Linked DNA regions of Homo sapiens. The protein of the gene in region 2 interacts with the protein of the main gene of each other region in a pairwise test. Each region holds a gene or a part of one and is shown on either strand. Other genes may lie near its edges.

What was found. Proteins that work in one complex are often made in the same cells at the same time.
Region 1: the proteins of INSIG2 (region 2) and SLC10A1 interact in a two-hybrid assay, tested with the Homo sapiens proteins (one large-scale study listed by BioGRID).

What each region holds. Positions count from the first base shown.
Region 1 is NC_000014.9:69,790,742-69,794,241, reverse strand, and holds part of SLC10A1 (hepatic sodium/bile acid cotransporter), read left to right. Parts: intron 1-3,500. UniProt on the Homo sapiens protein: As a major transporter of conjugated bile salts from plasma into the hepatocyte, it plays a key role in the enterohepatic circulation of bile salts necessary for the solubilization and absorption of dietary fat and fat-soluble vitamins.
Region 2 is NC_000002.12:118,105,471-118,108,483, forward strand, and holds part of INSIG2 (insulin-induced gene 2 protein), read left to right. Parts: intron 1-1,266; coding exon 1,267-1,433; intron 1,434-1,619; coding exon 1,620-1,719; intron 1,720-2,810; coding exon 2,811-2,852; coding exon of another isoform or gene 2,853-2,892; 3' UTR 2,893-3,013. UniProt on the Homo sapiens protein: Oxysterol-binding protein that mediates feedback control of cholesterol synthesis by controlling both endoplasmic reticulum to Golgi transport of SCAP and degradation of HMGCR.

The sequences.
Region 1 (3,500 bases), on a different chromosome or scaffold from region 2:
AGCAACTCATTCCATTTTTTTAAATGTGCAAACCAAACAATACATGTCAAAGGGCCAGCTGTAGCCCAAAGGCCCCAGTTTGAGATAAGCACAATACTCTACATCCCATTTAGAACTGGAAGGAATTGTAAGACACAGATCCCATTTTACACATGAAGAGGCTGAGGTCAGAGACTTGCCAGAGGTTTCCCAGAGTTTGTGGGAAACTGTGTCTCCCTCCACTCACTCTGCCTCATAGGTGGAGTCAGTCTGGGGACAGCCTGCCATCCCAGGAGGCCAGGCCACCAAGCAGACCCCTCAATGCAGCCAGGGACGGCAGCTCCCTCCTCAAGGAAGGCCACTAGACAAGTTTCAAAAAATGTAGGTGACAAACAGGCAAGAGAAAACGCCCTCACAGTTGAAGTGAGTATGGCTTGTCAGGCACAGAGAAGAGAGTGCTATGCCAGCAGGAACTGGCCTCTTTTGACCATCCTTGCTGCCCCAAGTTCATCTGCTCCCCCTGCCACCATCGGACTCACAGCAGAGCCCAGAGCCAATGGCCATGGGGACAATGGGCTTGGACACAACCCAAGCACTTCCACAGGTCTCCCAGCCATGATGTAGGAAGCTCAACCAGGACAAGATGGAAGCCACTGGGGTCCCAGAAGTTTTCCACTTCATAGAGACTGTGTTGAGGCCCCTCACAGCTCCCTCAGCTTCTGCCTCCAATCTGTGCATTGACGGACACTCGAACGAGTCCCTTAAATGGGGTACACAGATGTCCAAAAGCAAGGTCTATGCTGTGCTCTTGGAACTTAAGCAGGAGGGAAAAATAAAAAAAACAAATGTGCCCCTTTCCCCCTGAAAGGCAACCAGGCCTACAATCTCAGGAATCTAGAGTCTGAAAAAGTCCTTGCCCGTCCCTGTCCCTTGGGGTAAACCAAGGATCACAACAGTCACGGATGCCAGCAGGCTAGGAGATGGATGTCCCTGACCTGACCCCAGGACCTGTGCAAGTGGAGGAAGTACCTGGGGATCAGGGAACATGGCTCCTGCATACCCAAGCTGACAAGGCACACCAAGTCCAAACTCCAAAACTCCTGACACACAAGCCAAAGTAAGCATGATTCCTCTGCTCTAGGTCACCAGAACAAACACACAAGTTGTGTTTGGCTTTTCCCTAAGAGAAGATCAACAGTAGCATTGAAACCCCCTGTATTCCTATTCCCAATCTCATTACCCTCCACCACTTGCCAAAGGGAGCATCCCTGGGAATTTGGTGTTCAGCATTTCCACCGACCCTTTTCAACTATTATATACGTATATATTCATAAACAAGATAGACTGCGGGATTTACGTCTTTTAATTTTGTACGAACAGTATTATACTGTCCACATCACCTAACAGCTTGCTTTTTTTTTTTTTTTTTGAGAAATAGGCATGTAAAGAAAATAGCTACCTCATGTATCTGAACTGCTGTGCAGTTTGCTTGCATTTATCCATTCTCCTGTTGTCAGATTCATGTGGATTTTACGTCTCGCTTCTGTGAACAGACTTGTGTGTGTCCCTCTGCCCACATGAGGGCATATGCAATTGAAGCAGGACTGCTGGGTCGTGGGAGTCACACATCTTTAAGAGGTCTCCAAGGTCATTGTTCACTTCACACGTTCCCTAGCAGTGTCTGAAGATCCCTGTTTCTCTGTGCCTTCATCTATATTTGGAATTGTCAGACTTTTTAATTTTTTCCAAATGAAAACAGTGAAGCAGATCGCAGTAGTTTTAAATTTGATTTCATGGGAGGCCTACCACATTTCCACGTGTGCGTTGGCCATTCATGTGTCCTCTTCTGGAAACATTGGGTCCTTTGCCTGTTTTTCTATGGGATTGTGGTTTGGGTGGGTTTTGAAAATTAATTTCTAAAGTTATTGTTTTATATATGTTGCAACAGTCTATTCACAGTTTGGAGCTGGTCTTTACACTTTGATAATAATGTCTGATAGATTGCTTATGTTAATTTAGTCAAATTTGCCAATATTTTTCCTTTGTGGTTTATGTTTTTTAGGGGTTTCTTTAAGAAATCTTTTACTATCTACAAGCCTGTCCAACATGGCAAAACCCCGTCTCTACTAAAAAATACAAAAAAATTAGCTGGGCATGGTGATGTGCACCTGTAATCCCAGCTACTCAGGAGGCTGAGGCATGAGAATCACTTGAACCCAGGAGGCAGAGGTTGCAGTGAGCCAAAATCATGCCACTGCACTCCAGCCTGGGCGACAGAGCAACACCCTGTCTCAAAAAAAAAAAAAAAATTTACTGTCTACAAAGTTACAAAGATATTACCCTGTATTTTCTTTGAAAAGTTTTAAATGTTTGATTTTCACATGGAGAGCTCCAATCAATGTAGAACTTATTTTTATGTATGGCATGAACTAATTTTATCTTTTCCATACAAATAGAAGATTCCAAGCCACGTTGAGTGAATTTTTCTCCAGGTATTTGTAATGACATCTCTCTCATAAATGCAGGGCTTGTGTCTGGATCTCTCTTCTCTTCTACGGGTCTATGTGGCTACCCTTGTACCAGTTCCACACTTTCTTAATTACAATTTTATAAGTTTTGTTATCTGAAAGTTAAGTCCCCCTACTTTGTTCTTGAAAATCATGGGCCGGGCACAGTGGCTCACGCCTGTAATCCCAGCACTTTGGGAGGTCAAGGCTGGCCGATCACGAGGTCAGGAGATCGAAACCATCCTGGCTAACACGGTGAAACCCCGTCTCTCCTAAAAATACAAAAAATTAGCTGGGCGTGGTGGCGGGCGCCTGTAGTCCCAGCTACTTGAGAGGCTGAGGCAGGAGAATGGCGTGAACCCGGGAGGCAGAGCTTGCAGTGAGCCAAGATCACACCACTGCACTCCAACCTGGGTGACAGAGCGAGACTCTGTCTCAAAAAAAAAAAAAATCATGTTAGCTATTCTTAGCCTTTTACTCTTTCACTTGAGTTTCAGTATCACCTTTCAAGTCTACAAAAAAAATTATAAGTCTGGAAGTTTTATTAAATGTGCATTACATTTATATATAAATTGAGAGACTATCTTTATAATATTGAATCTTCCCATCTATAAATATGATATAGCTTTTCTTTTACTTAGGCCTTTTTTAATACCTTTCTATAAAGGTTTGTAATTTCTTTCATAAAGATCTTACATGTCCTTTAGATGTATAAGTATTTTCTAGTTTTGTGAATATCATAAATGGTGTCTTTTAAAATATATATATATTTGTTTCTAGTATATCAGACCCAATTGATTGACTGACTGATGCTAATGTATTTAGAACCTCATACATTTTCTTACTTACCAGTTATAATGGAAAATTACTTAGATTTCTTCTGTGGACAATCCTATCATTGGCAAAACAAGAAAGTTTCATTTCTTCTTTTCCCATCCCTATACTTTTTCTATTTCTTGTTTTGCTGTGCTTACTAGGGCCTATATATAGTATAATTTATAAAACAGGTAATAA
Region 2 (3,013 bases):
TGTTTATTTCATAGGGAAATCAGAGCTCTAAACCTTTTCTTTGAACTTTAAGTATAATGACAGCATAACAATAAGAAAAGCTTTTCCAGAAGCATACCCATATGAACTGTAGGTTTCTTTTTAAATCAAGCCTTAACAAGGAAGGACCTTGAGGGAGTTGCCCACAATAGTCCTGAGATTCTGAGAAATAAGCAAGCTGGGTGTTTAGGATACTTGCTTGGTAGGGGTGGGGAAATGGTGAAAAAGAGTGTTAAAGGAAGTGGGAAATGGCTTCGTTGCAATTTCTTTTTTGGATTTCTCTATACGTGCAGCATGGTCAGTTTGGTGATACGTGTTCTCCCAAACCTCCCCCGCCTTCCCCAGTAGCTGGTTATAGAGCCAAGATGTGGCCTTTGGGACATAGATAATGCCCTTTTAATGACACTTGAAATTAATTCCTTTAGTGTAATCCTCTAGCAAAGAGATGAGAAAACTGAATTTGTAAAGCTTAATTTTACCCAGAGATTTTGGTGTAGAAAAGGGCCATACATTTGTGAATAGATGCTTAAGTAGGTGATGAAAATAAAATATCATTTGAGCAAACTGTCCTATACCAGAAAGTCTCAGGCACCAAAATAGCTTGGCAGGTTGTAAGATAATGTTCACTTCAAGGCTTTATCCTCAACAAATTAAAACTAGAACAGTTGACATAATAGAAAGGGATACTGTGTCCTTGGTACTCTTGTTTCTGAACTGCATTATTATAAAATGTGTCTGTCAGTAAATCATAGAGAGAATGTGGTACCCTGTTAAATAGCTGTCAACTCTTCTATTTTCAAGTTCCTGTACGATTCTCAAGTAATTCTAAACCTGTTGGAGAAGTAATATTGGTTTCCTTTTTTGCAAAAGTGTGTTCCTTTAGTGATACTTGTGTTCTGAGGCTTCCAGTTACATTTTTAGCAAAGAAAGCATTTCTTAAATAATGGGTAAAGCCTTATAATTGGGAATGTATGTAGACTGTTCTTTTTGTTTTGTTTTGTTTTTTGTTTTGGAGGGGTTACAGTTGGTAGGATCTATTGATTAATGTCTTTTGTGTATCTGGTATTGGGTAAATACTGGAGACAGTTTTAATCCCACCTAGCTTCATACATTGTACTAAGAGACTGAATGTACTTGAGTAGAAGCAATTAATTCCCTTCTCAACAGAGGCATCTCTTATTTAGAAAAATGAACAGATGATATTATTTGGTTACAACTTTTAAGATGACTTCTTAACACTGATCTCAGAAAGTGGATTTCGATAACAACATACAGTTGTCTCTCACACTGGCTGCACTATCCATTGGACTGTGGTGGACTTTTGATAGATCTAGAAGTGGTTTTGGCCTTGGAGTAGGAATTGCCTTCTTGGCAACTGTGGTCACTCAACTGCTAGTATATAATGGTGTTTACCAGTAAGTATTAATCCTTCAATTTTTGGTGCTTGTTTGCTAGATAAATAAATGATAACCGCTTTCAGAATTGAGATTATGAAATGAGGTTAGCCAGTTTAATCTACAGAGTAGTTTATTTTCATTGTAATTATCTTAAGTGTCATTGCAGTTCCTCTGTGGGTATTAAAGACATGTCTGTTATTCTAGATATACATCTCCAGATTTCCTCTATGTTCGTTCTTGGTTACCATGTATATTTTTTGCTGGAGGCATAACAATGGGAAACATTGGTCGACAACTGGCAATGGTAAGCTGATGCTCACTTTTCTGAATAAGATGTGGAACAAATGACAAGTTTTCTCTAAAAGGCAGTCCTTTAAGGGAAAGCAATTTGTGAAGACAACATTCTTTGATTGCTTTTTTGCACTTCCATTGAAATAAATCATTTGGAAGAATTTAATCACAGGTGTTTTAAAAGTTGAGGAGCCACTGGAGAGAAAAACTCAAAATGTGTTATGGATAGGGCAATATGATTTATTGACCATATGGGGGATATTAGTGGTTTTTAAAAAACTAATCTACAGGTCTCCCACTATATCAGAAAAGGACAGTTTTAAAAGTTAAAAAGGTCACTACTAATAAGTGTGTTGCTACAATAGGTATACATTAGGACCACCTCTAACAAATCAAGATGTTTGATCATTTTAGTGATGAAGGAAAAGGAAAAGGCTAGGGAGTGACATTCAGAGGCCACAGCAGTTTTATGAATCAGTGCTGTCACTTTTACCTTTTTAGCCAGGTTAGGAGAATTGAGTGACTTACTTTGCTGTATTTTTGGTAAAATAGCCAACCAATTATCTTACCCTGTTGGTTTCCTTTATTTTGAATTGTGGGTGTACATTTTTATAGCTGTACTTTAAAAATGTTGTTTTGACTGGAAGCTTTTGTTAATGTAACAGATTTTTTCCTTTATATCATATAGCAATTTGAAAATACAGTGATCTGAGTTCACCACAACAGCCCTATCCTTAAGTTCATGAACTATTCTTTGCTAATTTGCCTTATTGAATACTCAAAGAAACCTGCTTTGCTTCCTTTCGACATTAAAAGATTGATCTAAATTCTAAATCATATACTGCCACTACTTGCTTGTAATGCAGAAATCTCATCTTTCTCTTGCTTTTGGCTGTGGCTTTTTCACTTCCAGAATGTGAATTATTTTTTTCCCTGTCACATTTGTCATTTAATCATAGTAATTATGTAACTCTTGGATTATTTGAGGAATAAATGGGCACATAGTAATAAAATGTTCATTTTTAGAGCTTTTCAGTTTATTTGGAAGTTGCTATTCAAAAGAAGTCTTAATCTGTTAACCTTTTAACCTTTTAATTTTTGCAGTACGAATGTAAAGTTATCGCAGAAAAATCTCATCAGGAATGAAGAAGGCAAAAAATATCTTTTGTACAGAAAAGCAAGATGAAAAGGATGTGAAATGGTAGATATACCAACAAAACTTCAGACTGTAAAATTGCCAGGATGCAGTTTTCCCCTTGATTGGCGTGTGTGTATATATGGATAAATATATATATACACACACACAT